2 separate regions of the Homo sapiens genome follow, and region 1 is linked to region 2. Evidence: fine-mapped expression QTL. A gene starts in region 2. The other region holds a variant in brackets. All regions are shown on one strand. Distances are between the middles of the regions. Region 1 overlaps TEX11 (testis expressed 11). Region 2 holds the start of SLC7A3 (solute carrier family 7 member 3).

Evidence for each region. PIP is the estimated chance that this variant, and not a neighbour inherited with it, causes the effect.
Region 1: its variant is the best candidate, but not a certain one, in a credible set for the expression of SLC7A3 in whole blood (TOPMed, PIP 0.86).

Annotation. Positions count from the first base shown.
Region 1 is chrX:70,826,317-70,830,704 of GRCh38, forward strand. All of the region lies in intron 8 of TEX11 (testis expressed 11), which reads right to left. Among named protein-coding and RNA genes, the nearest start is that of SNORD3E, 18 kb to the right of the region's middle. The variant T/C (reference allele first, on the strand shown) is at 1,622.
Region 2 is chrX:70,928,512-70,932,899 of GRCh38, forward strand. It overlaps SLC7A3 (solute carrier family 7 member 3), which reads right to left and starts at 2,585. Exons shown (of 12, transcript NM_032803.6): 1 at 2,466-2,585; 2 at 1,117-1,511; 3 at 333-491; 4 at 1-122. The coding sequence starts at 1,486. RefSeq lists an enhancer at 1,828-2,329.

The sequences.
Region 1 (4,388 bases), 100 kb before region 2:
AAAAAAAAAAGCTAAAATAAGGGTGGGGCAAGATCATGGAATAAAAGCCTGCATTGTTTGTACCCTCCACTGGAACACCAAATTTTAACAACTGTCTGCACACAGAAAAGCACAATCACAAGAACCAAAACCAGGTGAACACTCACAGTACCCGGTTTTAACTACATATTGTGGAAAGAGGCATTGAAGAGGGCAGGATAAACAGTCTTCAATCTCCAAGGCCACCCCTCCCCGCTTCCCTGGCAGCAGCTATGCAGTGCAGAGAGAGAATCTGTGCACATTGCAGAGGAAGAGCACAGCAGCTGGGGAACTTTACATTGAACTCAGTGCTGCACAGTCACAGTAGAGAAAAAAGTCATGCTGGGTTCAGCCAGCGCTTGTGCACAGAGGGAGTGTTTGGACCAGCCTTAGCCACAGGAGAATTACCCTCATCCCAGTGGTGGGAACTTGAGTTTCTTGGCAAGCCTCGTCACTGTGGGCTGAAGTGCTCTGGGGTCCTACATAAACTTGAGTGGCAGTCTAGGGCACAAGGACTGCAATTCCTAGGCAACTCCTAGTGTAAGGCTGGGCTTAGAGCCAGTGAACTTGCCACGTGACCTAGGGAGACAACAGCTGGCACAGCAAAGGGAGGGCTTGCACCATCCCTTCCCCAACCCCAGGCAATAAAGCTCGTAGCAATGAAAGTGACTCCTTCCTTCTGCCTAAGTAGAGGGAAGGGAAGAGTAAAGAGGACTTTGTCTAGCATCTTGGATACCAGCTCAGCCACAGTAGGACAGGGCACTGGGCAGAGTAGTGAGGCCCCCATTCCAGGACCTAGCTCTCAAACCACATTTCTAGACACATCCTGGGCCAAAAGGGAACCCACTGCCTTGAAGGAAAGGATCCAGTCCTGGCAGGATTAATCACCTGCTGACTAAAGAACCCTTGGTATAACCCTGGAATAACCATTAACGACCCAGGGAGTACACCATGGGCCTTGGGCTCTGAGAAGTGCTGGCTTCAGGGGACACCCAGCACATTCCCAGCTGTGGTGGCTCCAGTGAAAGACTCCTTTTGTTTGAGAAAAGCCCAGGAAAAGTAAAGAGGACTTTGTACTGCACTCTAGGTACCAGCTTGGCTCTTGGGGTCCCCAAATCCAGGTGTAGCCTCTTGGACAGTATTTCTCGTCCTGGGCCACAGGAGAGCCCACTGCCCTGAAGGGTGAGTCCCAGGCCTGGCAGCATTCACCACAAGCTGATGGAAGAGACCTTGGGTTTTATGTGAACATCAGTGGTGGCCTAGCAGAACACCCCATGGACCACTGATGGTGGCGGCCACAGGGAGAGACTCCTCTGCCTGTGGAAAGGGAGGGAAGAGTGGGAAGGGCTTTGTATTGTGATTTGAGTGCCAGCTTAACTGCAGTAGAATAAAACAGGTAAATTGCTCAAGTTTCTGACTCCAATCCCTGGCTCCCAGAGAGCATCTTTGGACACACCTGGGTTGTGGGGGAACTCACCATCCTAAAGGGAAGGGCCTTCCTTGGGCAAGGTCCAGTGCTGTGCTGGCTTCAAGTCTGACACAGCACAGGCCCAGTGCTTGCATCACCACACCCCCAGCTCAACACAGAGACAGTGACTCCATA[T/C]GTTTCAGAGAAAGTAAGGGTAAAGAACAAGAGTTTCTGCCTGGTAATCCAGAGAATTCTTTCAGATGTTATCCAAGGTCATCAAGGAGTACCCTTTATGGGTCTACAAGAAACACAGCATTATTAGGCTTGGGGTCCAAGTCTCTTTGAATAACTGGAAGGCCTTCCCAAGAAGGACTGGCATGAGCAAGCCTAGATTGAGAAGACTACAATAAATACCTAACTCTTCAATGCCCAGACACCGATGAATATCTACAAGCATCAACACCATCCAGGAAAACATGACTTCACCAAATGAATTAAATATGGCACCAGGGACCAGTTCTGCAGAAACAGAGATATGTGACTTTTCGGACAGAAAATTCAAAATAGCTATTTTGAAGAAACTGCAAGAAATTTGAAATAACACAAAGAAGGAATTCAGAATTCTATCAGATAAATTTAACAAAGAGACTGAAATAATTTAAAAGAATCAAGCAGAAATGCTGGAGTTGAAAATGCAATTGACATGCTTAAGAATGCATCAGTCTCTTAGCAGCAGAATTGATCAAGCAGAAGAAAACTAGTGAGCTTCAAGACAGGCTATTTGAAAATACACAATCAGAGGAGACAAAAGAAAAAAAATAAAAAAGCATGAAGCATACCTACATGATCTAGAAAATAGCCTCAAAAGGGTAAATCTAAGATCCATTGGCCTTAAAGAGGAGGTAGGGAAAGAGCTATGGGTAAGAAGTTTATTCGAAGAGATAATATCAGAGAATATCCCAAACCTGGAGAAAGATATCAACATTCAAGTATAAGAAGGTTATAGAACACTAAGCAGATTTAACCCAAAGAAGAACACCTCAAGGCATTTAATAATCAAACTCCCAAAGGTCAAGGATAAAGAAAGAATCCCAAAAACAGTAAAAGAGAAGAAAAAAAATCACATACAATCGAACTTCAATACATCTGGCAGCCAACTTATCAGCAGAAACTTTACAGGCCAGGAAAGAGAGGCATGACATATTTAAAGTGCTGAAGGAGAAAAAAAAATGTTTACCCTAGGATAGTATATCCAGCAGAAAGTATCCTTCAAACATGAGGGAGAAATAAAGACTTTCCCAGACAAACAAAAGCTGAGGGATTTCATGAACACCAGACCTGTCCTACAAGAAATGCTAAAGGGAGTTGTTCAATCTGAAAGAAAAGGATGTTAATGAGCAAGAAGAAATCACCTGAAGGTACAAAACTCATGGGTAATAGTAAGCACAAGGCTGGACAGCTGGAAACAGTGGCTCATGCCTGTAATCCCAGCACTTTGGGAGGCCGAGGCAGGTGGATCGCCTGAGGTCAGGAGTTCGAGACCAGCCTGACCAATATGGTGAAACCCCGTCTCTACTAAAAATACAAAAATTATCCGGGTGTGGTGGCATGCACCTGTAGTTCCAGCTACTTGGGAGGCTGAGGCAGGAGAATTACTTGAACCCAGGAGGCGGATGTTGCAGTGAGCCAAGATCATGCCACTGCACTCCAGCCTGGGTGACAGAGCAACATTCCGTCTCAAAAAAAAAAAAAAAAAAAAACAGTAAGCACACAGAAAAAGACAGAATGGTATCACACTGAAATTGTGGGGTGTAAACTTCTCTTGACTTAAGTAGAAAGAATAAATGATGAACCAAACAGAAATAATAACCACAACAACTTTTCAAAACATGGACAGTACCATAAGACATAAAGAAAAACAAAAAAAGTTAATCAGGGGAACAAAGTTAAAGTGTAGAGTTTTTATTAGTTTGTGTGTGTGTGTGTGTGTATGTGTGTGTTTGGCTCTTTGTTAATACAATCAGTGTTACACTGTCATCAATTTAAAATAATGGATTATAAGATAGCATTTGCAAGGCTCACGGTAACCTGAAACTGAAAAACAACGAAAATAAAAAAATAAAAAGGAAGAAATTAAATCATACCACCAGTGAAAATCGCCTTCACTAAAAGGAAGACAGGAAAGAAAGAAATATAATAGAATAAAAAATAGAAAACCAAAAACAATCAGAAAACAAATAACAAAGTGGCAGGAGTAAGTCTTTACTTATCAGTAATAACACTGAATGTAAATAGACTAAACTCTCCAATCAAAGGACATAGAGTGGCTGAATGGATTAAAAAAAAACAAGACCCAATGATCTCTTGCCTATAAGAAACACATTTCCCCTATGAAGATACACACAGATTGAAAATAAACGGATGGAAAAAGATATTCCATGACAACGGAAACCACGAAAGAGCAGGAGTACCTATACTTATATCAGACAAAATGGATTTCAAGACAAAAACTTTAAGGAGAGAGAAAAAAAGGTCACTATATAAGGATAAAGGGGAAAATTCAGCAAGAGGCTATAACAATTTTACATACACATGCACCCAACACTGGAGCACTCAGATATATAAAGCAATTATTAGAGGGAAAGAGAGAGATAGACCCCTGGTCAATGATTTTTTTGGATATGACCCCCACAGGTGACAAAAGCAAAAATAGGCAAATGAGATTGCACCAAACCAAAATGCTCTGCACAGCAAAGGAAACAATCAACAGAGTGAAGAGACAACCTACAGAATAGGAGAAAATATCCACAAATCACACGTCTGATAAAGAGTTAATCTCCAAAATATACAAGGAACTCAAACACTGCAATAGCAAATAAACAAATAACCCAATGAAAAAATGGGCAAAAGACCTGAATAGATATTTATCTAAGGAAGACATACAAATCAGCAACAGGTATGT
Region 2 (4,388 bases):
CCAGTTGTGCACGTCCCCCTTAACGAAGCCAGAGATCATGACGAACCCAAGAACCAAAAGGTTCACGCCTGTGAACACTTTGGTAACCAGGGCCGACTCACTAGCCCCGAGAGCCAACAATCCTGTGGGAGAAATGCATTCAGGACTCCCAGAAAGTCTTCAGTCCAAGCTTTGTTTCCCTGCCTCTAGGTTCCTTCCCAGCTTTTCTTCTTCCCCACCATTATCACCTCCCTTAAGCCTTTCTCAGGCCCATCCCCCATCCTTATCCCTGGCCCCAAGGACTAGCCCCTCCTGGCCCAACCCCCACCATTATACCCTGCTCTTTGCCTCACCAGTGAGCAGCAACACGAGGCCCAAAGCAAAGAAATCTGGATATTCTGCAAGGACATGGGGCACGTGCAGTGCAATGGACCCCTGCAGAGTCTTAGAGATGTGGTTCCCAATCAGGTTGTCAAAAGCAGAGCTCCAGGCCCGGGCCACACTGGCTGTACCTGGTGTAGCAGAGAGAGAAACATGTGGCCAAGTTCCCTTCTTCCCAGACCCCAGGCTCACACAAGTCCCTGCCTTTTTCACCTATTCTTACTTTTGTTTTGTTTTGAGACCAAGTCTCACTCTGTCACCCAGGATGGAGTGCAGTGGCACAATCTCCTCTCCCTGCAACCTCTGCCTCCTAGGTTCAAGAGATTCTCCTGCCTCAACCTCCTGAGTAGTTGGGACTACAGGTGTAAGCCACCCTGCGCGGCTAACTTTTGTATTTTTAGTAGAGACAGGGTTTCACCAGGTTGGCCAGGCTGGTCTTGAACTCCTGACCTCAGGTGATCTGTCTGCCTCGGCTTCCCAAAGTGTTGGGATTATAGGCGTGAGCCACTGCACCTGGCCTATTATTACTTTTTAAGAACCAAAACCATTCACTTAATTAAGGAAACCAGGACGGAGATGGATAGAATGAGCAATTTCTCCACACCTTCAACACCCCCCCCCAGACCCCCAGCAAACCCGCACATTTAGGGAGATTGAGGTCCTGTGAATAATATAAAGAATACTTCCACCCAGATTTCCTGACCAAAAACCCCTTTGCTGGCTGTGCAGTTCCCTCCCTCCCCCACCATATCTCACCAATGACATAGGAGAGGATGAGGTTCCAGCCAGTGGTGAAGGCCCAGAGTTCACCCACAGTGACATAGCTGTAGAGATATGCCGAACCAGAACGGGGAACCCGGGCACCAAACTCCGCATAGCACAGCCCAGCCAACACAGAAGACAGGGCAGCCACCAAAAAGCAGATCACAATGGATGGCCCTGCTTTATCTTTGGCCACCTCGCCAGCTAGGACATACACGCCTGCACCCAATGTGCTGCCCACACCCAGGGCCACTAAATCCAGGGTGCTTAGGCATCTGGCAAGGCGAGTCTCAGCCATGCCTGACTCCAGTGTACGTCTGCGTACCAGCTTTTGACCAAATCTGCGAAATGCTTGCCACGGCATCCTAGCAGGAATTGAAGAAGATGATCTGGTGAAAAACAAGACAAAAACCCCTCGACAGGGCTCATTATCCCTAAACTCTGAAAGCGAATTACAAGACCCCCTCCACCAAGCAAAGGAGCTATTGGGAAATGAGGACGGGGATATGGAAGGGACAAAGGCAAGTCACTTTACCTCTAACCTCAGTTTCTTCATAAACAAGTAGGAATTACAATACCTTACAAGGTTTTTGGAAGGGCTAATTTCAGAAATGGCACGTGAAAGCCCCCTGAAGTAGAGTGGCTGGCGCCTAGTAAGTGCTCAATCAATATTAGGTCTCTTTCTCTTGCCAGAAACTGATAGGGTTTATCCTAATCTCAACCCAGGAATCTTGAAACCTAATGTGTCAGTTCCTTGGCCTGTGGCTATTTGGGAATTAAACAGAGCTCCACCCAGGGGCTTCCCCCGGGGCTTCAAACAGACACAGCCCCCAGACCCCCCAGAGGGAGAGGGGACCAACCTCGCTGCAGATTAAAAGTGAGCACCGACTCAATTCCATCCCTCCTCACCAAGCCCACACTGCTCAACTAGCGCAGCTGTCGCCCAGGGGAGTAAGCAAATGTTCCCCTACTTCCTCCCAAGCCCTGCTAGGCTGACCTGCAAGCATCAACAGCGAGGCGGGGCTTCGACATCTAAAGATTTGGAGATGCGCCCCCAGAGGGGCCCCAGGGCAGCCCGAGATTGCTCGCACTCTCCTCTCAGCAGAGAGGAAGGGTTCCACCCGATGCCCCCCGACTCAGGTCCCAGATTTTCCTGCCCCCATCTAGAAATGGTTTGGAGCTGGGGTGGAGACGGGAGCCCTAACTCCCGGGGCGGGGGTCTCGCCAGCAACAGGTCACGGCCCCGTTGATGCAACTGCATGCCATGGTTGCCAGAGAATCCTAGGTACGCCCGGACCCTCGCCGTCCCCCCTCCGACACACGTGTGGGTCCCCAACGCTTACCAGAGAGCTGTTGCAAACCTAGGGAGCACAGAGTCTTGGACTGGGCTCGGTGAGGCGGAGTTAAGCCGAGTTGGGTTGGAGCTGCCGAGTTCGGCCGCTCAGGCTTCAAAGCTGCGGCTTGGGGTCGTTGCGCGCCAAGCGCCCCTTATATACACCAGGAGGCGGAGCCGGTAACGTCATGGGATCCCACCCCCAATCCTCCTCGCTACACACAATACACACACACACACACACACACACACACACACACACACACAACACACACACTTCTTGGCTTTGCAAAAGGATTGCGTGGGGCCTGAGACTGCGTCCCATCCTCACTAGCAAGCCTGGCGTGCCGGGGAGCGAGAAAAGGGGGAGGGCAGTCTTTTCCCATTTGTCTCGCTGGTCGTCAGAACAGGACAATAAGAGGCTTCCTGGCCAAAGAACCCATGAGATTTTCCACCTCTGTGCCCTGTTAGGACCAGTGATTCTGGGCAGGAATGGGGAAGGTAGGTGGGGTGTGATGGGGGGGAGTTGGGTGCGTGTGTGTGTGTGTGTGTGTGTGTGTGTGTGTGTGTGTGTCAGGAGTGAAGCGGAACACAGCAGGGGAGTCTCCACCTCACTCTCAGTCTTTCTTCCTTAGCTTTCTTGTCTACACATCTGACCCTGACCCTTCAGCTCTCACGCTCAGCTGTGGGTGTTTCTAATGCAGGCAGCAGGAGAATGGAAGATGATTTCAAGCCACCTGTATACAGATAATTAATCCAGTCTAAATTGATTTATAGGCCCCAATCTCTCTATAATGTGTCTCCAGCTGCCTATAAATATTAAACTATTAAATGTGAAATTCTGACAATACCAACATCTTGGAGGAGGAAGCTTGTTTAGTTCCATTTTATTGATGTGTAAGCTGAGGCTCAGAGGCATGACTTGTTTGACACCACACCATAATTATTGTTGACCACCTTTGATAAAACCTGGCCTGTTGGACTTCAATGCCTGCCTCCCGTAGGCACCATATCTTATTCAAATGAACAAGAAGAGGGATGTGGCCACAAGGAAAGACAAACAGGGAGAGGCATCAGCAGCAGGGTAGGTCCGTTTAGGCTAGGAGATACTAGGAAACAGAAAAGGACCCGAAGAATCTACGAATGATCACATTGGGTCAGATCCATAATCCATCTGACCCAATCAATTCTTACTCATAAGAAAGCACCAAAGGTTGTGAAAGTGTGGTCCCTGCTCCACCAAGACATCTTGGGGACTAAGGATGGACTCAAATATCCTTGCTTCTTTTAATGATCCATGATGAATATATTACCCATGAATCTAAAATCTAAATCCGTTCTGAAAGAATTGGTATTTTCAACCAGCTGCAGCTCCATTTGGCATTCATTAAGTATTTATTGAGCATTTATTGAGCACTATGTGTAGTAGCTGGTACAGCAATGAAGAGACTATGAAGGAAACATAAAATAAAATCCTTGCCCTCCTAGTCCTAATCTAACTAGGGAAAGAAAACACACACTATACAACTGAAACCTTATTACATAGACGTTAGGAGTGCTGTGTTTGGAATTGCACCTAGGTTAAACTCACAGCTCAGCCACTGTGGATTACCTAACATCCCTGAGCCTCAGTTTCTGGACATAATATACATATTTCACAAGGTTGTTGTGATGCTTAGATGAGATTATGAAGTCAAGTCTTCCTGCCTGGCACATGGAAAGTACTCAAGAAAAACTTGATACATATTTGGAACGATATATTAGTGTATATGATCTGGTTGCTTAGATTAGGTGATTGATTGGATTATGAGATTGATTATTTATCACAGAGATAAAATCCAAATGCCATGAAATCCAGTCTTTTAAAGAGTACAATTCAATAGGATTTAGTATACAGTCACAGAGTTGTGTATCCATCACTACAATCAGTTTT